Linked DNA regions of Homo sapiens. The protein of the gene in region 1 interacts with the protein of each later gene in a pairwise test. Each region holds a gene or a part of one and is shown on either strand. Other genes may lie near its edges. The genes, in order: DNM1L, MPC2, SCG3 and MIEF1.

Region 1 (7,035 bases):
GCTGAGACAGTAGAATCACTTGAACTCAGGAGGCAGAAGTTGCAGTCAGCCAGGATCACGCCATTGCAATCCAGCCTGGGCAACGAGAGCGAAACTCTGCCTCAAAAATAAAATAAAATAAAATAGCTAAACTACAATGTTTCTACCATATAGCTCAAACCCTCTACCTAATGACAAAATATAAATATGAAGTTTAAACCACTTCATAATTTGTAGTTAATATGTGGGGTGTTTTTTGTTCTTAAGAGACCAGGTCTCACTATGTTGCTTAGGCTGGAGTGCAGCAGCTATTCACAGCACAATCACAGTGAACTACAGCCCTCAACCTCCTGGGCTCAAGCAGCCTTGCCACCAGGTCTCCCAAGTAAAAGGGACTACAGGCACAGGCCACCACACTTGGCTTAAAAGAGTGTTCTTATATGAACTTAATACCCAAAATCCAAACTTTCTAAAATACTGCAGACCTAACAGTCCTTAGGAAGGAATTTTTTCTTGGTTATAAAACTATAGGTCCAGTGCTTTCTAGATCACTAAGAGAGAGATTCAGATATCTGATAAGGCAGAATTATCGTCTGTGAAAATCCCCACTTCTTCCATAAAAGCATGAAAAAGTGATATGAATCTACACATCCAAGAAGCTCGATGAACTCAAAGCAGGATAAACACAAAGAAATACACACATTGAGATAAATTATAATCAAACTGTTGAAAGACAAAGACAAATGCTAAAAGCAGCAAGAGAGAAGCTAAGAGTCATGAACAAGGGATCCTCAGTAAGACTAACAACAGATACAACAGACTTCTCATCAGAAACCATAGGGGCCACAGCAGCTCTGCCTATGGAGTAGCCATTCTTTTATTCCTTTACTTTAATAAACTTGTTTTCAAAGAAAGAAAAGAGAAAAGAAACCATAGGAGCCAGAGGCAGTAAGATAAAGTGCTAAAAGAAAAAACCTCCCCATCAAAAATTCTAACTTAAAATGGTTAAGATGCCAATAAAACCTGAAGCAACCTATAGAGGCAACACAATCCCCATCAAAATCCCAACTGTCTTGTTTACAGAAATGGAGAAGCCAAATCTAAAATTCATACGGGGCCCACACAGTGGCTCACGCCTGTAATCCCAGCATTTTGGGAGGCCAAGGTGGGCAGATCACCTGAGGTTAGGAGTTTGAGATCAATCTTGCCAACGTGGTGAAACCCCATCTCTACTAAAAAAACAAATATTAGCCAGGCATGGTGGTGGGCACCTGTAATCTCAGCTACTTGCAGCCTGAGGTGGTTGGATCGCTTGAACCCAGGAGGCAGAGGCTGCAAGTGAAACGAGATCACGCCACTGCACTCCAGCCTGGGCGACAGAGTAAGACTACCTCTCAAAATAAAATAATATAAAATAAAATTCATATTGAATGACAAGGGACCCCAAACAACCAAAACAATTTTGAAAAAGAAAAACAATGCTGGTAAAGTTACACTTCTCAAATTTTAAATATACTCCAAAGCTACAGTAATCAAAGCAGAATAGAACTGAGAATCCAGAAATAAACCCATATAATAAATCTTTGGCTGGCCAGGCATGGTGGCTCATGCCTGTATTCCCAGCACTTTGGGAGGCCGAGGTGGATGGATCACCTGAGGTCAGGAGTTCAAGACCAGCCTGGCCAACATGGCAAAACCCCGTATCTACTAAAAAAAAATACCAAAAAAAATAGCCCGGCGTGATGGCAGGTGACTGTAGTCTCAGCTACTTGGGAGGATGAGGCAGAAGAATCGCTTGAACTCAGGAGGTGGAGGCTGTAGTGACCCAAGACTGCATCATTGCACTCCAGCCTGGGTGACAGAGTGAGACCCTGTCTCAACAACAACAACAAAATCTTTGCTCAACTGATTTTCAACAATGCCAAGACTATTCAATGGGGAAAGAACAGTCTCTCCAACAAATGGTACTAGGTCAACTGGAGAAGCACGTGCAAAAAAAATGAAATGAACCCCTACCTCATACCATACCAAGATGTACTCAAAATGGATCAAAAGCCTAAATATACAAGCCAAAACTATAAAATAATTAGGGGAAAAAACATTAAAAAATAAAAAAAAATCTTCACGGCTTTGGATTTGTCAATGCCTTAGATATGACACCATAAAGCAATAAAAGGAAAAAAAAAGATAAATTAGCCTTAACCAAAAGTAAAACCTTTTGTGTATTGAAGGACACTAACAAGGAAGCAAAAAGACAAGGCCGGGTGTGGTGGCTCATGCCTATAATGCCAGCACTTTGGGAGGCCAAGGCAGGCGGATCACCTGAGGTCAGGAGTTCAAGACCAGCCTGGCCACCTGGGCAACAGAGCGAGACTCCATCTCAAAAAAAAAAAAAAAAAAAGAAAAAAAAGAACTCTTACAACCTCAACAATAAGACAACCCCAACAAACACATGAAAAGATGTTCAACACCATTAGTCATTAGGGAAATGCAAAACAAAACTTCACACCCATTAGGATGACTATAATCAAAAACAGATAATAACAAATGTTGACAAAGATACAGAAAAACTGCACCCTTCAAACATTGCTGGTGGGAATTTTAAAATGGTGTAGCTGCTGTGGAAAAGTGGTTGCTCAAAAAGTTAAACAAAATTACCATAGAACCCAGTAATTTTACTCCTAGGTATATACCAAAATAACTGATAACAGGTACTCAAATACTTGTACACCAATATTCACAGCAGCACTATTCACAACAGCTAAAAGGCAGAAACAACCCAATTGCTCATCAATAGGTGATTGAATAAACCAATGTGGTTTATACATATAACAGAATATTACTCAGCCATTAAATGGAAAAGAAAGAAGAGGGAGTGACAGCTCAATAGTAGTTTTCTTTCGTGATGAAATTGTTTTGGACCTAGACAGAGATGTCATTATGAATGCACTAAATGACACTGAATTATACATTTTATAAAAGGGCTAATTTTGGCTGGGCACAGTGGCTCACACCTGTAATCCCAGCACTTTGGGAGGTCGAGGTGGACGGATCACCTGAGGTCATGAGTTTGAGACTAGCCTGACCAACATGGAGAAACCCTGTCTCTACTAAAAATACAAAATTAGCCAGGCATGGCACATGCTTGTAATCCCAGCTACTTGAGAGGCTGAGGCAGGAGAATCACTTGAACCCGGGAGGTGGAGGTTGCTGTGAGCCGAGATCGCGCCATTGCACTCCAGCCTGGGCAACAAGAGCAAAACTCCATCTCAAAAAAAAAAAAAAAAAAAAAAGGCTAATTTTATGTTCTGCAAATTTCACCTCAATTTTGTTAAGTTAAAAAAAAGCAGCAGCTCATAATCTATACAAAAAAAGAGAAAAACATAAATTTATCTAAGAACACAAGAAAACAATGCATAAGCAGGAATTAAATTATAGTCAATAAATGCTAAAATGTAGACAGCAGTGCTCATGGAGAAAAAAAAGAGAGAGGGACATCAAACTATGAAAAAAGTTGTCCATAAGAGAAGGAAATGGCATAGGTGTCAAAAAGTGCTGTTTTTCAAATAAAGAATTCCAGAATGATTTAGCGCTTAAAAAAAAAAGATAACAACAAGTGTTGATAAGGATGTGCAGAAACCTGAACCCTGGAGGGGATGTGAAATGGTGCAGCCACGGCTGGGCGCAGCAGCTCACGCCTGTAATCCCAGCACTTTGGGAGGCCGAGGTGGGTGGATCATTTGAGGTCAGGAGTTCGAGACCAGCCTGACCAATATAAGGAAACCCTCGCCTCTACTAAAAATACAAAAAGTAGCCGGGCAGTAGTGGCGGGCACCTGTAATCCCAGCTACTCAGGATGCTGAAGCAGGAGAACGCCTTGAGCCTGGGAGGCAGAGGTTGCGGTAAGCCAAGATAGCGCCACAGCACTCCAGTCTGGGCGAGAAAGTGAGACCCTGTCTCAAAAAAAAAAAAAAAAAAAGGTGCAGCCACTATGGAAAACACTTTGGTAGTTTTTCAGAAAGTTAAACGTAAGAATTATCATATGAATCAGCAAGTCTACGCTTAGATATATACCCAAGAGAATCAAAAATACACATTCACTGACCGGGCGCGGTGGCTCACGCCTGTAATCCCAGCACTTTGGGAGGCCGAGGCGGGTGGATCACGAGGTGAGGAGATCGAGACCATCCTGGCTAACACGGTGAAACCCTGTCTCTACTAAAAACAAAAAATTAGCTGGGCGTGGTAGCGGGCACCTGCAGTCCCAGCTACTCGGGAGGCTGAGGCAGGAGAACGGCGTAAACCCGGGAGGCGGAGCTTGCGGTGAGCCAAGATCACGCCACTGCATTCCAGCCTGTGTGACAGAGCGAGACTCCATCTCAAAAAAAAAAAAAAAATACACATTCACACAAAAACTTGTAAACGAATGTTCGCAGAGCATTATTTATTCATAATAGCCAAAAAATAGAAACAACCCAAAAATTCATCAATTGATGAATAAACTGTGCTGTATCTATACAATGTAATATTTATTATTCTGCCATGCTACATAATGGATGAACCTAAAAAACATTATGTTGAGTGGCTCATGCCTATAATCCCAGCACTTTGGGAAGCTGAGGCAGGCAGATCACTTGAGGTCAGGAGTTCGAGACCAGCCTGGCCAACATGGCAAAACCTCGTCTCTACTAAAAATACAAAAAAATTAGCTGGGTGCGGTAGCACGCGCCTGTAATCCGGGCTGAGGCAGAAGAATCACCTGAACCCGGAAGGTGAAGGGTTGCAGTGAGCTGAGATTGTGCCATTGCACTCCAGCCTGAGCAACAGAGCAAAACTCTGTCTCAAAAAAGAAAAAAAAAAAGAATTATGTTGAGCAACAGATGCCTGGCACAAAAGATCAAATCACATATTATAGGATTCCACTAATGTGAAATATCCCAAATAGGCAAATCCATACAGACAAAAAGTAGATTAGTGGTTGCCAGTGATACCTGCTTTTTCCAGTATCATGCATTTTAAAATCCAATGATTCACTAATATATTTTTCAAATTAGGATCTAGGAACCATCTGTATCAGAGTCACCGATGGACCCTCACCCACGTGGGGCTTATAAAATCAAAACCTGTCAGAAGCTGGGGGAGGACAAAACGGGGGTGACTGCTTATGGGCAGGAGTTTTCTTTTTCAGGTAATGAAAATATTTTGGAATTACACTATGGTGGTACAACTTTGTGAACATACTAAACGCTGCTGAGTTGTGTATACTTTATAAGGGTGAATTTTGTGTTACATGAATATTTCAGTATTTTTAATGTTAAATTTTTAAAAGTTGATTTGCAAATTAGAAATTAAAATCCAAATTACTGGCCGGGCATGGTGGCTCATACCTGTTATCCCAGCAGGAGGCTGAGGCAGGCAGATCATTTGAGGTCAGGAGTTTGAGACCAGTCTGGCCAACGTTGTAAAATGCTGTCTCTACTAAAAATACAAAAATTAGGCCGAGCACAGTGGCTCATGTCTGTAATTCCAGCACTTTGGGAGGCCAAGGCAAGTGGATCATGAGGTCAGGAGTTCGAGACCAGCCTGACCAACACAGTGAAACCCCATCTCTACTAAAAATACAAAAATTAGCTGGGCGTGGTGGCATGCACCTGTAATCCCAGCTACTCAGGAGGCTGAGGCAGGAGAATCACTTGAACTCGGGAAGCGGAGGTTGCAGTGAGTTGAGATCGCACCACTGCACTCCAGCCTGGACAACAGAGCAAGACTCCATCTCTAAAAAAATAAATAATAAAATAAAATAAAATCCAAATTATTTTTAGGCTAGGTGCAGTGGCTCACACCTATACTCCTAGCACTTTGGGAGGCCAAGGCAAGAGGATCATTTGAGCCCAGGAGTTTGAGACCAGCCTTGGCAACATAGTAAGGCAGCGATTTTAAATTTAAAAAAAAAAATTAGCCAGATGCGTGCCTGTAGTCCCAGCTACTCAGGAGGCTGAGGCAAGAGGACTGCTTGAGCCCAGGAATTTGAGGTTACAGTGAGCTATGGATTATGCCACTGCACTCCAGCCTGGGTGAAAGAGCCAGACCCTAAAAAAATAAAAATAAAAAATCCAAATTGTTTTTCCTTTTACATTTGTCTGAATTACTGAAGATAGAATGCTGAAATCACTGAAATAAAAGGAAAAGTGTAAAGTACATTACTAGGAACACTAAGCCAGAGTCTCAGGTTAATGTCATCTGTATTCGGATACCTATATTGGGTGGTAGTTTAGATTACATACCTGGAGGGCTCCCCTTTCCAATTCTTAATTTAAGAAATAGGATTAAATTTCCCAAGTTGAGTCACAAAAGTTGTTTTAAGTCTTATCTCCTCTACTTGCAAAGTTACACCATGGTCTAAAAGTATCATCAGCCTTCTCTCTCTCCCCACTGTGTCTGTTCATTTCACACAGATGGTCTCTACTAGAAAAAATAAAAGCAATTTATTTAGCTAACACATAAAACATGTGAATGACTGATAGCTGTAAACAGGATTCCCTCACCTCCACTCCTCCAAGTCCCTAGCCCCCAAATGAGTGTTACTTGGGCATTTCATAAAACCAAAGTTTAAAACATTTAGGGGTCAGCAATGGTTGCCTGGGAAGTGATATATTAAAGCAAGAATGCCACCAAAGTCAGCATGGTACTGGATGGTAGTATGCCATAGATTCAACCTCCCCTAATTTTCCTGCTTTTTCCAGTATCATGCATTTTAAAATCCAATGATTCACTAATATGTTTTTCAAATTAGGATCTAGGAACCATCTGTATCAGAATCACCTATGGTCCCTCACCCAACCCAGGCTTATAAAATCAAAATCTCTGGAGACAGGATCCAGGAAACTTAGTTTCAAAGTGATTCTTAGGCCAGGCGGGGTGGTTCACACCTGTAATCCCAGCACTTTGGGAGGCCGAGACGGGTGGATCACCTGAGGTCGGGAGTTGGATACCAGCCTGACCAACATGGAGAAACTCTGTCTCTACTAAAAATACAAAATTAGCCGGGCGTGGTGG
Region 2 (3,933 bases), on another chromosome or scaffold:
AAACTGATAACTAGGCTATGTGTTCCAAGTGGCAATGAGAGTTTTTGACAGGATACATATTGTTACTTTTTGAGATGGGAGTTTTGCTCTTGTCGCCCAGGCTGGAGTGCAAAGGCGCGATCTCAGCTCACTGCAACCTCCGCCTCCTGGGTTGAAGTGATTCTCCTGCCTCAGCCTCTGGAGTAGCTGGGATTACAGGCGTGCGCCACCACACCCAGCTAATTTTTGTATTATTAGTAGAGACGGGGTTTTACCATGTTGGCCAGGCTGGTCTCGAACTCCTGCCCTCAGGTGATTCACCTGCCTTGGCCTCCCAAAGTGCTCGGATTACAGGCGTGAGCCACCGCACCTGGCCAAGATTTAATTTTTAAGATTAAAAAATTGGATAGATTAAGAGTTTTGGGGCAGAAAAGAAAAGAAGCATGTGATGGTTGTTTGTCAATGAAACTTCTGAGAAACAAGAAAGGAGGACTGCCTATGATTGTATCTAAATGCTACAACAAATTTGACTGACAAGAGGGGCTTAGGAGACCCCGCACAGAAGAGGTTTTAATGAAAAGGAAGTGAAACACCAAGCTCACATAAATTTTTAATAAACTTTTTTGTGTCTATGTCATATTTCATAATGTTTTTCCTAAATGCTTAACCTAGGAAACACATGTGTGCACACCCATGCCAAACACACAAATGAATTTAACAGTGTGGTTTATGAAATGAAAGCAATAATAGTTTGACTCTTCAGAACCTCTTCATTGTGGCCTATGTCAAGCTCTCTAATCTTTTCTCCTCAATGGTAGGCCATGGTTAAGGGACAGATGATAAAGTACAAGGTTTTCAATTGCTAACTGCCAAATTTTCATAGGTTATAGTATTACTCAAAAAGTTGTTTTGTCTCATTTCTTCAAATTTTGAAATAACTTGCTTTGCTGACTCATCTGACTATATTTTTAATGAGGACTGGCTTTATTAGCACTTTTAGAAAAAAAGCTCTGCACTCCACACTGAAAGTCAAATCAAATAGATAGTTAATTATTTGTAGCGTGGAGTAATGTATGCTCAGTCTCTCCTCACAACGGAGCCAAAGGTCACAAACATTTACAGAAAACCTACTTATGTCCCAGGTACTCTGCTAGGTACTTTCCTAACTTGTCTAAAGTCACAGCATAGGCTGGGTATGGTGGCTCATGCCTGTATTCCAGCACTTTGACAGGACGAGGCGGGCAGATCACCTGAGCCCAGGAGTTCGAGACCAGCCTGGGCAACATGACAAAACCCTACCTCTACAAAAATACAAAAATTAGCTGGGTGTGGTGGTGTGTGCCTGTAGTCCCAGCTGCTCGGGAGGCTGAGGCAGGAGGATCACTTGAGCCCAGGAGGTAGGGTTTGCAGTGAGCCGAGATTGTGCCACTGCACTCCAGCCTGGGCCACAGAGCGAGACCCTGTCTCAAAAAAAAAAAAAAAAAAAAAGTCACAACAGATAAGTCATAGAGCTGGGATTCAAATTCAGGTCTGTCTGAATATAGAGTATTTTCTGCTACATTATCAGTTACTGAGGGTAATTGAAAAATTTAACACTTATCATGGACCAGGCACTATGTTAAAACATTATCTCATTAATCTTTACAATGATCCTATTTAAAAATCTGTAGCTGTAAAAGAATTTTATACAACATTTATACAAAAATCATCAAGATTCTTCATGGCAAGTTAAAATGTTTTTAAATAGTTTGAGGTCATCTTGATAGTCATTCCACTACCCATTTCTCAGTCTCTTCAGCAAAATTTCCTTTCACTTATAGCTAGCTACCTGACCATCCTACACTAAATAAGCAGATAATTTAATCTTCCAACTTCTTGAATTTGTGTGTTCTTTTATGTACATATGTTGGCTGACTGGAACAGAAGGAGGCAGGGGGTATATACGAGCAAGTATGGTTTATTACGGACAAATGGTAGAAAAATGTTACTAATATCCATAGATAAGTTCCTTAAGTCATGTAGAGAGACTGTTATTAAAAGTTTGCTGCATTTTTCTATTGAATCAAGAACTAGCTACCAGTTACAGTGCCTTCTAAACACACAGTTAGCTTTGCTTTATCAATAACCAAATAATAAACTAGGTCCCAATGGTTTTGTCCACATCTAGATTGTTCAGGTGATCAGGAACTCTTTTATTTGTGTGCTTTAGCTTTTAGTTCTTGGTTATATCTATAAAGAAAACAGAAAGAAAAATAATCATCAATAATAATAGACAAATTTATGGTAAGGAGAGAATGGGAAGCATACTCCATTTCTTCTTTCTTGGTGGTCAAGTAGCTATACAGTTGTAAACAGAATCTTCCCGGAGGGCTTACAGGTAGAAACAGGCAGAAAGGAAAGGATTCAAAGAGTTCATTTGCATCTGGATTTTGTTTCAGATAATAAGAGCACAACTGCCAAAAACTTTTTTTTTTTTTTTTTGAGATGGAGTCTCACTCTGTCGCCCAGGCTGGAGTGTAGTGGTGTGATCTCGGCTCGCTGCAAGCTCTGCCTCCCGGGTTCACGCCATTCTCCTGCCTCAGCCCCCCGAGTAGCTGGGACTACAGGCGCCCGCCACCACTTCTGGCTAATTTTTTGTATTTTTAGTAGAGATGGTGTTTCACCGTGTTAGCCAGGATGGTCTCGATCTCCTGACCTTGTGGTCTGCCTGCCTCGGCCTCCCAAAGTGCTGGGATTACAGGAGTGAGCCACCATGCCCGGCCTGCCAAAAACTTTTAACAGCTTAGCTGACATATAGTTTCCTGTGCAAAAGTATTATTTTAATAAAAATATTCTCATTCTGGAATTCTACAAGAACGTGACAAACTTGTGAACATATGTATAAAATTTAGTAAAATGTGGTCACCTAGAATTTTAAAATTTATACTCGCAAAGCACCTTTCCTAAGAATAAGATCAACAGGTAAAGTAAAATATACTAAAGTAATCACTAAAGTAAAATATACTTCTAACCACTAAGGTAAAATATACTTCTGTGATGCAGGCAGGCTATTGGGTTAACAGCCTGTAAACACTTAAGTTCACAAACGCTAAGGACCATTTCCTCAATTCTCAATCCAAAGAAGTAACCACAGAGCCATAGTCTTTCCTTCCCTTCTACCATACCTTGGGCTTCATTTACTATTCCTCCTAGCTTATAATGGAATGGAGAGTAGTATAAAAGCATAAGAAGGAACTTATTCCATGAAGCCAACCATACCTCCTAGGTTTCTCAAAAGATCCTGATTTCAAATATTTGATCATAATGTCATTATCATAAATCACTGACAATATTAACTACTGAGTAAATAGTTTAAAAATTTCCAGTGCTCATGGAACACTTTCCAATGAAAGCAAAGACCTCACTCTACGTATCATTTCCAATACTACATAACAATACACTTAAGTTCCAATTTATTATATACAATTGAAAGTGATAAAAGGTTTACATAAGAAATTAATAAATCATAAACTGTATATGTTGTCTTAATAAAAGAGATTATGTGAGATGGTTAACCATCTAAATGATGCACAGTTAAATCTAAAAACTAGGTAACATACTGCTTAACTGATTTTAGTCAGTTAACTAGTTAACTGGTTAACTTATTTGTAAACCCCTAGACTTTTCTAGAAATGTTAAATTTCTACTTTAGATACTTCTTGTCTTAGCATTATATATGAATCTTTTAAAAAAATTAGTGCCATCTCCAGCCTGGGCAACAGAGCGAGACCCCGTCTCAAAAAAAAAAAAAATTAGTGCCATCTAAGTAGCTTTTGCAACAGTTTTAAAAATATCTCTGGTAGGCTTACCTCCAAATACGAAAAAGCTGAGAGGCTCCTGCTGCCCCCACAAAGAAATTAACAGCAAACAGACTCCAATTTTTTGGAATAATTACAAGTGAGTATCTTGACCAAA
Region 3 (7,658 bases), on another chromosome or scaffold:
CTGGGTTCAAGTGATTCTCCTGCCTCAGCCTCCCAAGTAGCTGTGACTACAGGTGCCCACCACCACTCCTGGCTAATTTTTGTATTTTTAGTAGAGATGGGGTTTCACCATGTTGGCCAGGTTGGTCTTGAACTCCTGACTTCGGGTAAGGAAACTACCACATTGGCTGCCAAATGAAGAATGAGTTGGGGAGAGGCGGAGTGGTTGCTGGGAGAACTGTAGATTTTGCTATAGTTTACATGAGACATAATTGGAGCTTGGACAAGGATTGGAGTTTGGACAAGTACAGAGAAAAACAATTGAGAGATACACAGACATAAAATTAGTAAGTTTTGGCAGATTAGAATTTGAGAGGTGAGGGAAAAGATAAATAGTTTGATCCTAGATTTCTGTCTTTAAAAAACTGGATGGATAGTAGTGCCTTTCCTAAAGAAACAGTACTCTAAGAGGTCTAGGTTGTGAAGTGGACACAGATTATGAGTTTAATCATGGGCATGCTAAATTTGAGGTGCTTCTGACACTGCCAAGGGAAAATGTCGAATAGGTAAACAGATAAATAGGTCTATAGCTAAGAGAAGTCTGGCCTAGTGATATGGGATGTTAGGATATAGATGTAATTGAAGCCACGTAAAGGTTAGGATGACCTAAGGAGAAAAGATATGGCTAGGAGGAAACACTGAAAAGGAAATAGTGGATATTTCACCTTTTTTGTGCAGGGTGGGAGGGTACTTTACTGATCTAATTATTTGAAAATTATGATATTTTGTGTGTACTCATTGTTAAAATAAATCTGAATGTTCAAATGAATTTAATACCATAAAATACAAATACTAGATTAAAAAATGTTTTCAGAGCATCACTAAAGGAATTTTTAAAGGGAAAATAAAATATGGCACTCTGTGGAGCTGGGGCTCTACATGTTATCAGTAAATATATGCTTTATCTCAATTTTGGACTTGACTAATAAAGGATTATGAATGTTTAAAAGATATTTTTAAAATATTGGACTTTCTCTTAACCCATTATAGGAAACTCCACGTTAACAAAAAGTTCTTTTTTTCTCATTTACCTTGAAATTTATGATCCAATCCACTCTTAGTAGAGTCATAATCATCGATCAGTTTTCGATTCTTGGTTGAATCAACATCTTCCACATTCAACTTATTATCAAGTGGGGAGCTTCTTATAGATTGTCTTTCTTTCTCAATTTTTTCCTTTTCTGTTATTGCCTTTAGCAGGTTCAAGTTATCAACAAAAGAATAGTTGCTCTGACCTGGCTTGTTTTCTGGAAGAATAGCCCCAAACCCAACACAGCCATTTTAGTTCAGATTCTCATAGCCTACATTATTTAAATTAACATCAATATGATTTCTTTTTACCTGGAGGATATGTTTTTTTAATCTTGTCTTCTTCTGCTTCAGCAATCTGTGAAGCAAACAGGAGATAGACTTGGTTTAAAATCATTGCTCCACTACTTACCAAGTACAAGAGCCAAATGATTTAATCTCCATGGGATTTAATTGTCTTGTTTGTAAAATGTGGATAATTCCTATTTCAGAGCACTGTTATAATAATTAAATGAGATAAAATTAAGGGTAGATGCTCAGTCAGTGTTAATTTCTTTCTCCTATAATATTGTTGAAAGAGAAATCTCTGGTAAATTAGGCAATCTTACAACAGAGTGGATGTGATGCTGAGCTTACTGGGTTATTATATAGTTACTCTATGTATTCATTATACAGAACTCAATGTAAATAACTGCTAGGGCATAGAATTTACCAAAACTAGATTTCCCGTCCTAATTTCTGTCAATTAACTATTAAGTTCCTGATGTTTGTAAATTCAAAATGACCAAAATGTCACAGCATAATTACATTAAATAATAATAACTAAATCAAAATGAAATAGCATTCATAATGTTACTTTTGACCTACCTGTTCATTCAAAGGTCTTTCTGCACTTAATTCTCTATTATGTAGAGATTTGTCTAGAATAAACACATGTGAATATAAATTTAATTGTGCGTTGAAGGACAAAATATGCCTCTTATTAAATAAAATTTTTATAAAAAGGAAAAATATTAGGAGAAATAATTTTGGATGACTATGAAACAAATGCATATTAACAAAGATTATCAAGATTATACAATAATAGTAATTATCAATATTGCCTTGTTTATTATCTTGGTGTATTTCTTGAGCTGACAGAATCACACTTTTTTTTTTTTCTGACCAGAAATTTAACATATAGTTCTAACACTAGGGTTATCAGCTATTCTCAGCTAGAGAGAGCATAATTTGGATTGGTATTATTGGCACACTAAAAGCTCTTTCATCATATACTGCATATATAATGAATAGACTGTCTGAGAAAGGTTGTAAGGCAACTAGAAAACAATCCAAGCCACTTTAGGTGAAAAAGGTTCCCTTCCCTTTTCAAAATAAGATCTTTAAAAACAACCCATATTATTGCTCTATCATTTTAAAAGTGAAGAAAAAAAATCTGTCTTCTGTCTCTAAATTCGAACTGATTTCTCTGTCCGTATTCATGGATATGATTTGATCAGAAAACGCGTCAGGGTGATTTACAGCTCACGTATTATGCCAAACTTTACCTTTTCGTGGCGAAATAAAAGGAAGGTAGGAAGAAGAAAAGTGTTCACATACCTTGGCTTCCTCCAGGTTTGGGGAAAGCTTGAATCGGGAGCACTAACACCAGAATCCAAGTGCCGGTCCCGAGGAACCCCATTCTTCCACGCTCGGCTTGGGTCACAGCCCGGCGCTGGGCTCCTGGAGCTGTAGCTTTTGTTATGAATGAAAAGGAGGAGTAAAAACAGGAAGAGCCAGGAGGGTGGGTGTGGGGCGGGAGAGGGGCCGGGACTGGGCGGCTGCAGGATCTCTGACACTCGACGGTCAAGGGATAAGCAGGGTTGGGGCGCGCGGGAGTCAAGTCTCCAGGTAGAGGGGAGCGCTGTCCGCCCTGTGGGTGCTGAAGTTCCTGTGACGCGGAGACTGCGCGCCAGGGCGTAGCTTTACTCTCGCTCCCTCCTGCAGAGGAAGTGAGGAAGGAAGCGCATGCTCCATGCACGCCAGAGGCGGGAGGGGATGGCGTCGGTGACTCCAACGCTACTCCAATCCCCCGGGAATGGAACAAAGGAGGGGCGACCGGCCAGCTGGTGTATTTTCTGTGCTGCAGTCCTAGGGTGCTCCTGGGCTCAGGGTCAGCTGGCTTGTCCTAAGCGTGACAGAATTGTCCCAACCTCTCAAGTAAATGTTACTTCAAGGGCCAAATGCCTTCTCTGCCTGTGCACCTGTCAAGGAGATTTAGATAACCTTGTGCGAGGAGTTCTGCTTCGGGATTCTTCTTTTGGGATATCTGCTCCAGAATCCCTTCCTTCCATTCACCTCCTGTACCCAAAAGGTAGATATAATTATAATCTCTTTAGAAAAGCCCTGCCTTTTGTGGTCTGTGTTGACGTATCAAGCATCCCTCAGCTCTACCGAGGCTTTTGAATTGGGAAATTCAAGGAACAGTCTTCCAAATAGTCAGATTGCTGCAATACACTCTCACTCTCTGATGCTGAAACACAACAACAACAGAAACAGTCCTGAGTAGACGAGCAGCAATGGCAAATTCTCCTTTCCCCACCAAGTGGAACCTCCCCCACTTTACACACACACACCACACAACTAAATTAGAAAAAAGAAGCTGCATTTCTGTAAAATCTTGCCCAGAATTTAATTATGCCCAAAGACCTGGCTGTTCCAGGGGGTCCTTCAAGAGAGGGGATAGTCATGAAAAGCATTTTTCATCTTTACTAAGTCAGGGAGGTGCTTCCTATGTTCTGAGAATATTCCCAGAAGCCTAAGGTTATTGTATACAAGGAACTATCAAAAGACTTTAAATGATGAAAACAAGCAACATTAATGTGAGCAGGATGCTGAGTAAGCTCTTTAGTCTCTGATTTTTAAACAGAACTTGGACCTTTTCCTCTGGACTGCGGCATGCTGGGAACCAGTCTGAATAATGACCAAAGAGAAGGATTCAGCACAATCAGGCCTTTGATTTCTGCACCCTCCTTTTCAAGGAGGAAGTTATTCAAGTACCTAAAAACAAACAAACAACCAAGCTGACAAACAAATCTCCCTTGCTCCGGAGGTTTTTGAGTTTGGAAGTCACTCAAATACTTCCTTTGAGGATCTAAAGAGTATTCTAAATCTAACAGCTCCTTCAAAACAAAAAACTCTTTATTGGCAGTAATAACATAGCATTATTATCCCAGTATACTGCATTAAAAAATTAAGTCATATTTTAAAATCCCAGCTGAATGAAGGGTATATTTCCTTAGTTTCCTTTTCTTTATGATGGAAATGACAGGCTCTGTTTACCTCACACTGTTATTATGAAGATCAAATGGGTACATGTTTTGAACTAGTCATTTTGATACCAAGAATATTTTGATACAGCCTAAGAAAATAAGTCATGAAACGTTTTCAGCTTTTATGAAACATTACCCAACGCTATCTGAAATAGCCATTCACTGATCCTGAGACTCACTGACCTAATCCCTCAGCTTCACTTTGTCCTTTGTCCCATTCCTGACTCATTTATCTCCTCAATACATGTTTGCAATTGGGAGAGATTCAGGATGGGATGAAGGTCAGGGATGTCTGTTGAGTACATTGCATTGCTTGCCCAAAAGAAAAAGGGTATTTTGTCTCTTTCTGCCATTTGGACTTAAAGTGATTATGTTAAATGGACACTAAATCTAGGATCATGTTATGTTTCTGATCAAATGAGTGGTGGAGCATTGAGTAAAACATAGGCATGAATTAGTTTACATTATTCAGCCTTATGGATGATACCACTGGACTTAGTATAGGTCTGTGAATGGAGTAATCCTAAATTGTATTTATTCATCAATTCACTTAACAGGTGTTTATTGAGCATCTGAAATGTACCAGGTATTGAGATAGTTGCTGGGTGTACAAAGACAAGTAAGACACTAGTCACTGCTAGTCCTATAGCCTAGTAGAGAGAAAATATTGTGAATATAACAACAACTATTTGGTGAACAGGTTTCACATGCAACACACTATTCTTATTGAAATATAAGTGAATGAATAAGTACAAGAGAGTGTTATGTGTCCTTTTTGTATTTGCAAAGCTCAAGTAGAGTCTGTCCAAATAATGGAATGAATGGTCAGGAAAGATTTCAAAGAGAAGACAGCCCTTTTATTAATAATAAAAAGATTAAAATATTTGATTCTTATGTGTGAGAACACTATAAACATGGAATAATATGAAAATATATGTTGAAATTACAAGACAAATAACATTGACACAGATCAGATAATTATTAAATCAACAATGTACAATGCACAGTGAGTTTGTCAATGCTGCTTGTTCATTTGTCAACACAAATGGAACAATTGTGGTGCGCTCATTCACTAGTGGAGAATATTATTTTTGAGCTGAGTCTTGAAGGTAGAGACATTTGTAGGATGCTTTCATTTATTACAGAAAAAATATATTAATTATTATTGTATTTTTATAGAAAATTTCAAGCACAAAAGTAGAGGAAATATTGAAATAAGCATGCATGAATCCACTACCCAACCTCAATTATCATTAACTCATGACCATTCTTTTTATTCTATATTTCCGTCCACTTCATACCCCAATGAGTTGTTTATCCATTAAAAACCCCAGACTTCATCATGAGGTCAAGCGATTGAGACCATCCTGACCAACATGGTGAAACCCCGTCTCTACTACAAATGCAAAAATTAGCTGGGCGTGGTGGCACGCGCCTGTAGTCCCAGCTACTTGGGAAGCTGAGGCAGGAGAATCACTTGAACCCGGGAGGTGGAGGTTGCAGTGAGCCAAGGTCACACCACTGCACTCCAGCCTGTGAACAGAGAGAGACTCTGTCAAACAAACAAACAAACAACAACAACAACAAAAACCCAGACTTCATACCATTTCATCCATAAGTATGTCAAAGTATGTCAGTATATTTATGTAAAAGATAAGGATTATTTTTTCTAATGTTACTGCAATGCTTTTAACATACCTCCTCCTCATTATAATAATGCCATAGTATCATCAAATATCCAGTCAGATTCAAATTTCCCCCTCTTGCCTCATACTGTAAATATTTTTACAGTTGGTTTACTTGAACCACGATTGCATTTGGTTGACATGTGAGAGACACATATGAGTAAGAATGGAAGGGCAGATGTTGCAAGGTTTTCTTTGACTTCCTAGATGAGATCATTTCTTCCTCAGGATACCATGCACACTCCCAGTTGGGCATATATCCCATATGCTGCTTTGTGTAGATGCTTTCTTTCTCCTTATTTCCAAAATAATAAATACATATTGAAGGAAAAACTTCCGAAAATACAGATAAGGAAAAAGGGGAAATATCTGATAGTGATAACCAATGCAAACTTTAGGGGTATGTCCTGTTGTTGCACATTTTTTCTAAGAAAACTTTACACATATATTTATAAAATTATATCTCTCACTGTGATTACATGCTTACATATCTGGCTTTCTACCACACTAGACTGTGAATTTTTCAAGGAAAGGATCTTGTTTCACTCATCTTTGATTTCTCAGCCCTTCTTACAGTGTCTAGAAATCCATCTGCTTAAATAAATGAAGGGATGGGGGGTTTCCTGTTTACCTTTGGTCTTCAAATCCTGAGGCTATGATGGCTATCCCACATTGGAGGATCTTGACACTGTCAGGACAATTCTCCACTCAGCACTTTCATTACAAAGGCGTAGTCTCACAGAAGAGATGTTCATGAAAGGGCTAAGAATAGAGAGCCTGAGCTGGCAAGGCCCTTGCAGTTACAGAGTTATAGGAATGGATCTGTTGCTGTGAAAGAGACTGACACAGGATGCCAGCACTAGAGGTGGCTGCTGATATAGACGAAAGGAGAAATAAATGTGAAATCTAGAAATTCACCATCAGAGGAAAGTTGAAATAACAAAGAATAATGTAAATGAGCAAATAACAAGACTTAAGGAAAGTGAAGGCATGGAAATGAAAAGAAAAGGGCACATGAATAAGGAAAGTGGGCCCAAATGACAAGATCATATAGGCCACCTACAGACTGAAAGGTGCCAGAAATAAATCTGAGAGTGGGTAGGAGGAGAAAGTAGTAAACTTGTCTTGTTCACTTATCTTGCTTGTACCATAGTTGAACCAGATTGGGTCAGTCACCTACCCTGGGGGCATAGGAGGAAGATGCAAGAACTATGTTTGAGTGTTCACTCCAGAACCACAAGGGTAGAATGGCTTCCCAGAAGGAATCAGGGTGAGGCTATAAAGTAAACAGAAAACAACAGATGCACATGACACCATTAAATATAGTATTTAAAATGAATTAGCATTATTGAGTGAAAATATCAGGTTGCCTATCAGCAATGTGTTTCCTATTATAGAAAGTGTGTGTGGCTGGGCGCAGGGGCTCAGGCCTGCAATCCCAACGCTTAAGGAGGCTGAGGCAGGAGAATCTCTTGAGTCCAGGAGTTTGAGACTGGCCTGGGCAACATAGGGAGACCCCATCTCTCCTACCCCCACAAAATAAATAAATAAATAAATAGATAAATAAATAAGCTGGGCATGGTGGCGCATGCCAG
Region 4 (7,035 bases), on another chromosome or scaffold:
GTTTCTCCTGCAGGGACATGCGGAGTCGTGACTTCTTCAAGTCTACCTGGCCCTTCCTGGCCACTGGCTTGGGCCGGGGCGGGCAGAATGTATCTGCCAAGGCAAGAGAGAGAGGCACGTGAGCTCTGCCCATGCCTGCTCAGTCCACAGCTGCCTCAGCCCCAGAAAGAAGGGCCTGGCATGGAGGGCAAGTGCTGGCACAGTGCCTGGCACAGATGTGCTCAGGAAACATCTGCTGAGTGCAGGAGTGGTACTGAAAGTCCAGAGAGGTCCCAGGAGGGGCAGCAGCCCTTCTCACCTGTGTCGAAGGTGGAGGAGTCTGTGGGAAGGGTCTGCAAGGACCGGCTCAGGCCCGTCTTCATGTCCCTGTTCAGCAGTCGTGGGGAGCCCATCCAGTTGGGTTCTTCCCAGCTCCTTTTCCCCGAATGGCTCAGGCGGGTGGGGCTGGTAGGGGCACTGATCGCCCGATCGTACATCTGAAATAGCAGAGAGGACACAGGACATAAACCTGCCCTCTTTCCCTATTTCCTTCCAATTTACTTCCTCCCCAGAAGCTCTGTCCTAGTAAGTTCTTTTAGTAATTTTGTTTTTATTTTAGATTATAGAATACTTTGCTCCACGCAGAAAATCTCAGGGAAGACTACATGATATAAGACATAGATAATCCACGTCATGACCCAGAGAAAACTGTTTGTAATATCTGGTATGTTTCTTTCTAGATGCATGTAATGACGATCACTCTATACATACTTTTGAAACCTGTTTTTTTCACTTATCATTGCGATCATTTCCTCCTAGAACGCTTCGACATTTTCTTTCTATAAAACATTACATCTTATGACCATACCACTACATTCCACCCCCAGCCCTGGCTGCATGCACTTACCCGCTTAACTGCCAGCGTGGCGATGCCCAGCATGGCCGCTCCACCCACCCCCAGCACCAGCCGGGCATTGGAGAGCACAAAGTCAATGGCCGTGCCAATGCCATTGTCATCCTTCTTGCCTTTGCGCTCACCAGCGCCTGCCATTGCTCATCTGAGAATGAAGACAGAACACGGCCATAAGTACTGGGACCCCAAGAACCTCCCTCCCCTAACAAGCCAAACCCCAACAAGTACAGGGTACTCTGTGAGTTCCAGCAACCCAAATCTTCTTGCCTCCAGCACTGCATGCTTTAGGGTCTGGAGGGAGCTACAATGTCCCATGATAGATCAGGATGCAAGGAGGAGGGGCTGATCTTGGGTATTGTAGGAAAACTTTCCCCAAGCTAGTGAGATTAAGAAAGCATTAAGCTCAGTGTCAGTCCTTTTTTGTATTACAATGAAGTACCCCACCATGCAAAACAGCCCTCTCTCTGCCCCTTTACAATGTTAAAATGCAGGTCTCTACCCCTTCACAATGTTATAATGCAGGTCTCTACCCCTTCACAGGGGTTATAATGCAGGTCTCTACCCCTTCACAGGGGTTATAAAGCAGGTCTCTACCCCTTCACAGGGGTTATAATGCAGGTCTCTACCCCTTCACAGGGGTTATAATGCAGGTCTCTCTACCCCTTCACAGAGGTTATAAAGCAGGTCTCTCTACCCCATCACAGGGGTTATAATGCAGGTCATTTCTTCGTCCTTTGGCCACTACTTTGTGGAAGGTTAGATCTGAGCGGGACCTTGGAGCTCATCTAATGCCATCACATCACCTCACACAGAGGTTCTCAACATAGGGAGGTGATGTGTCAGGTCTCAGAGAAAAGAAATGGTACAGGCGCAGTGGCTCATGCCTATAATCCTAGCTACCCGGGAGGCTGAGGTGGGAAGATCGCTTGTGGCCAGAAGTTCAAGACCAACCTGAGCAACATGGCAAGACCCCCATCTCCAAAAGTAAAAGATAAAAATAAATTGAGCATGGTGGCACATGCCTGTAGTCCTATCTACTTAGGAGGCTGAGGCAGGAGGAATGCTTGAGCCCAGGAGTTTGAGGCTACAGTGAGCTATGATCACGCCACTGCACTCTAGCCTCAGTGACAGAGTGAGACCCCATCTCTTAAAAATAAAAATAAAAAAACAAAATGGGCCGGGCACGGTGACTCACGCCTGTAATCCCAGCACTTTGGGAGGCCGAGGCAGGCGGATCACCTGAGATCAGGAGTTCAAGACAAGCCTGGCCAACATGGAGAAACCCCGTCACTACTAAAAATATAAAATTAGCCAGATGTGACAGCGCATGCCTGTAATCCCAGCTTCTCAGGAGGCTGAGACAGGAGAATCCCTTGAACCCGGAAGGCGGAGGTTGCAGTGAGCCGAGATCACACGATTGCACTCTAGCCTGGGTAACAAGAGCTAAACTCCGTCTCAAAAACGAAAACAAAACGACACAGTCATCTCCAGAACTCAGGACTCCCCACTCCTTGTATGACGCTTTTTCTACTGTACCATGCTCACCCTTACCCAAATCAAATCGGCCCTTATTCTATCTACTTTCTGCAAACAAAACACAAAACAACATGTACCAAACATCCTGCACACGGAACTGAAACTACACGTCCATATGTGAGAAAGGTCCCTCCATGGACCCTCCTACTTGACAAATGCTTTGTTTCTTGAGAGAAGTGCGCAGCGGGGACTATAAAAGCTTAGGTGAGACTGGTATACCGGGAGATAAAAAACACAAAGGACACTGCAGACTCGACTGCTAACTGGAAAACAAAACACCCATCTGCTCGATTACACCTGGAAGAGGAACTAAAAATGTGTTCACCTGAAAGAAGTACTTGGGCACCACAGCGAAGAGGCTGGCCTCCAGTGCAGTGCTCAGGCCAGTGCTGCTCCCGACTACAGTGGAGTCTTCCTGACTGCAGCAGCAGCAGTCCCCAGATAAGCCCATTCCTGTGGAGTTAGAACCCTGGGCCTGAGCCGGATAAAGGATGACAGTGTGATTCAGATCGGAATACCACTCAGCATGCTGCCACTCTCCTCTATAATATCCCGTGTCCTTCACACCAGGAATGACATAAGGGAAAACAAAGTCGGATACCATTTAGCGTCCCAGAATGGGAGGACATCAAGAGACAGGATCAGCCGGGCGCGGTGGCTCACACCTGTAATCCCAGCACTTTGGGAGGCCAAGGTGGGTGGATCACGAGGTCGGAAGTTCAAGACCAGCCTGGCCAACATAGTGAAACCCCATCTCTACTAAAAATACAAAAAATTAGCCAGGCATGATGGTGCATGCCTGTAATCCCAGCTACTCGGGAGGCCAAGGCAGGAGAATCACCATTGCACTCCAGCCTGGGTGACAGAGCAAGACTCCGTCTTGAAGAAAAAAAAAAAAGGATCACTGAGGATTATCTTCCATGTAAAATAACATTCCTTCTAATACCGTGTTACAAGTGGATATTTCTAGCTTCCACATCTTACGCTCCTGCCTCTACCTCCCTGAAAAACAAAGAAATATTTCTGACTCTATTATTCCAGTAATTGAGTTAACTAAGAGTCACTGTCAAGCCCAAAAATATTTTTTTCCCTAACTAGAGTTCACACCTTGGGGGTACTTTCCTTTTCTCTACCATTTACAGTCAATAGAGGCTTCAGGTTTAGGGACATGAAAGACTATTTCGCCAAACCGAGTACATTCCCACCTCAAATGCACAGAGCAAAGCCAGGGAGAAGAGATAACGTTTGTATTTACAGGTGGAATCAGGGAAGAACAGCAGACACCCTCTCTCCAGTGGCCACTGAGATAGAGACGGGACAAACCAAACTTAGCAGAGGCAAGATAACCCAATCAGGAGAAAAGCAGAACACTATACATTTCCCCACACATAACAATGTCTCTTGTTTTAACTCTTTACTGAAATATTTACAATAGGGAGAGCCACTGGACACATGTGCCCTCTAAATGATCCTTGAGTGTGATGCAGCAGGGCCAGAAGGGCACCTCCTCACTCAGGGCAGAAGCAGCCTCCCTGGACCATTTTAGTCCTTGGTGCCCTTCTGATGACTGGTGAGAGCAAGGTGGTGCTACAGATGACAGAACAGAGCGTGGGTTTTAGAGTCAGAAATCCTGAGATACAGAACTTGCCTTGAGCCCTGACTTATTAGCTGGGTGACCTCAAATGAGTTACTTAACACCTCAGCTACGAAAAGGGGATAATGGTCCCCGCGTGGGACCAAATCACAGGGTTGTAGTGAGGAAAAACCATTCACTGCAATCCTGTATGTGAACGGTATAAACTGTATTGCAGTGGATGGTCTATAAACTGTAAAAGTGCTCCACAAATGAGTTCTCCTCTAGTCTTTTAAGATTTCCATCCACAGGACAAAGGTCAGCTTCCAGAAGTCAGTCAGCAACCCAGACTGTCCTCTGAGTGACAGTGCACCTTTTGAGACTGCTCTAAAACGGCCTTGAAAATTCGCAGTGATGCCATCTTGGACTTGAGATCAAAACTATTTTTTCTTTTTTTTTGAGACTGAGTATCACTCTGTCACCCAGGCTGGAGTATAGTGGGGCAATCCCGGCTCACTGCAACCTCCACCTCCCAGGTTCAAGTGATTCTCCTGCTTCAGCCTCCCTAGTAGCTGGGATTACAGGCATGAGCCACCACACCCTGCTAATTTTTTGTATTTTCAGTAGAGACAGGGTTTCACCATGTTGGCCAGGCTGGTCTCGAACTCCTGACTTCAGGTGATCTGCCCACCCTGGCCTCTCAAAGTGCTGGGATTACAGGCGTGAGCCAACAGCTGAGATCAAAACTATTAAGTTGGGCCAGCTTGTTAAGCCTTTTCGGCCGGGTACGGTGGCTCACGCCTGTAATCCCAACACTTTGGGAGGCCAAGGTGGGCAGATCACGAGGTCAGGAGATCGAGACCATCCTGGCTAACACGGTGAACCTCTGTCTCTACTAAAAACACAAAAAATTAGCCAGGTGTGGTGGCAGGCGCCTGTAGTCCCAGCTACTCGGGAGGCCGAGGCAGGAGAATCGCTTGAAGTCGGGAGGCAGAGGTTGCAGTGAGCCAAGATTGCACCCACTGCACTCCAGCCTGGGTGACAGAGCAAGACTCCATCTCAAGAAAAAAAGGCTTTTCCTACTGTAGTGCAATAGGCACCCCCCGCCCACCATCCAAGGACGGACTGACATCACAGACCTGGTGACCTGGAACAGAAGACGGCATCCACAAGCTCAACAGACAGACACGGACCTTACTTGAAAAGTTAATTCAACTTGTTCCAGTTTAAACTGCTTCTCCATGACACGCTCTCCACTCAGGTTCTGCTGCATAAGCTTACAGCCTACTAGCAGGTAAGAACTCCACCTCCAATCGGGACTGTCATGAAGGAACCCCATTGCTTAATGGGTACAGAGTTTCAGATGTGCCAGATGAAAAGGGTTCTGGGGCTCTGTTACCCAACAATGTGAATATACTTACTACTACTGAACTGTACACTTTAAAATGGTTAAGATGGTTAAAATAAAAAACAAAGAAGGAACACAGACCTGGTGGGCAGAACTAGGGATGGAGAATTTCAGCTCTGCCAATATTTCAGGCAAGTTATTTAACCTGTCTCGCTAGATACAAAAATGGGAACAGAAATGCTCATCACCCTAATATAGTTAAGGATGATGAATAATGGAGGCCTTGCGGCTTCCTAGGATGACAGCACAGAAGTGTGAAAGTTCCAACTTATTTTAATTGAAAAAGCCATAGGCCTTTTTATAAACCTATCTTGCTTGAGTATGTACGAGACTAGGTAGCAGATATTGAGTGTGTATTATGTGCTGGCAATTTTACACTTATTATTAATTCCCTCAATCCTCACAACAACAATCCCATGAGATCAGTAATATTATCCCAAATTTAAAGGATGAAGAAACTGAGTAGTTTCTGTAACTGACCCAAGGTCACTGTGTCAGTAAAGTATGTGACCAAGATTTGAACCCTGAGATCACGCGGTGCGGAGAACTAATCTACAGGGGTCCTAGGTACTTGCTCCACACCTTGTTCCCATCTCCACTCCATTAACCCCCAGACCATATGCTTCTGGGGGACATTTGGGCTCATTCACTGCTGCATCCCCAGGGTGTGCAGTGTTTGATGCATAGGGAGTATATGTTGTGGGAATGAAGTATTAACTCTACGGCGTTTTGTTTCTTGGTTTTTTTGAGGGGGTAGTGATAGCAGCGTGTAGCCCAACTCACAGCCAAAATATATTAGGAACACAAAGATTTCAAGGAACGCCCTAATTCCCTCCTAGATCCGCTAGCCAACCCTCCCTGTGCAGACAGGCTCCCATGGGCATCACCCCACCCCTGGCCCTGTACTGCCAAAGGCAGATATGCCAATCCTAAGTGGCTGAGAAGAACCAAAAGTCATTACATAAGGCTCTCTTCCTACTTTCCCTCCCCCAGTTAAAAGCAGCACCCTCCACCCAGCTGGCAGGCCTTACACCCAGTTACTCTTCATCTTTCTCTCTCCTCCTCCTGCCTCAGCCAACTGATCACCAAGTCCCACTGCTGTACACACTGTGTTTATATGTGGCCACCCCCACCCCTCGGTCCCTCAATCTGATCTGGCTACATCCACTGCCTCTAGTATCTCTCATCAATTTATTCTTCACACTGCCACTGGTATGCTCCCTCTACGATACAAATGTGGCTATGTCATTCCTCTGTTTACAGAGCTGTGATGGTCCCCACATAAGAAGATATACATTACAATCTCAACTTGGAGTCAACGTCCTTCCAGACCAGGCCCAGCCTCAACTCTGGCTATTTGCCTTACAGGGGTACCATGCTGGCCACATCAGACTTAAGTTTCCAGACTACAAAGTGCAGTTTCTGGACAGGCAGAGCTGTTTGAACCTATAATCCCAAAGCTTTGGGAGGCAAGGGTGGGAGGATCGCTTGAGGCTAAGAGTTTGAAAGCAGCCTGGGCAACATAGCAAGACCGTCTCTACAAAAAAAATAAATAAATAAAAAATTAGCTGAGCACATTGGTACATGCCTGGCGTCCCAGCTACTCAGGAGGCTGAGAAGGGAGGA

Evidence for each region.
Region 2: the proteins of DNM1L (region 1) and MPC2 interact in binary tests that used the Homo sapiens proteins (3 or more experiments, as listed by UniProt).
Region 3: the proteins of DNM1L (region 1) and SCG3 interact in a two-hybrid assay, tested with the Homo sapiens proteins (one study listed by BioGRID and IntAct).
Region 4: the proteins of DNM1L (region 1) and MIEF1 interact in binary tests that used the Homo sapiens proteins (3 or more experiments, as listed by UniProt).

Annotation. Positions count from the first base shown.
Region 1 is NC_000012.12:32,682,283-32,689,317, reverse strand, and holds part of DNM1L (dynamin-1-like protein), read right to left. Parts: intron 1-7,035. UniProt on the Homo sapiens protein: Functions in mitochondrial and peroxisomal division.
Region 2 is NC_000001.11:167,916,152-167,920,084, forward strand, and holds the end of MPC2 (mitochondrial pyruvate carrier 2), read right to left. Parts: coding exon 3,828-3,933; intron 2,209-3,827; coding exon 2,172-2,208; 3' UTR 524-2,171; downstream 1-523. UniProt on the Homo sapiens protein: Mediates the uptake of pyruvate into mitochondria.
Region 3 is NC_000015.10:51,676,846-51,684,503, reverse strand, and holds the start of SCG3 (secretogranin-3 isoform 1 precursor), read right to left. Parts: upstream 3,002-7,658; 5' UTR 2,749-3,001; coding exon 2,667-2,748; intron 1,988-2,666; coding exon 1,935-1,987; intron 1,426-1,934; coding exon 1,380-1,425; intron 1,286-1,379; coding exon 1,070-1,285; intron 1-1,069. UniProt on the Homo sapiens protein: Member of the granin protein family that regulates the biogenesis of secretory granules. Acts as a sorting receptor for intragranular proteins including chromogranin A/CHGA. May also play a role in angiogenesis.
Region 4 is NC_000022.11:39,505,290-39,512,324, reverse strand, and holds part of MIEF1 (mitochondrial dynamics protein MIEF1), read right to left. Parts: intron 2,904-7,035; exon of another isoform or gene 2,754-2,903; intron 1,038-2,753; 5' UTR 1,031-1,037; coding exon 887-1,030; intron 477-886; coding exon 299-476; intron 94-298; coding exon 1-93. UniProt on the Homo sapiens protein: Mitochondrial outer membrane protein which regulates mitochondrial fission/fusion dynamics.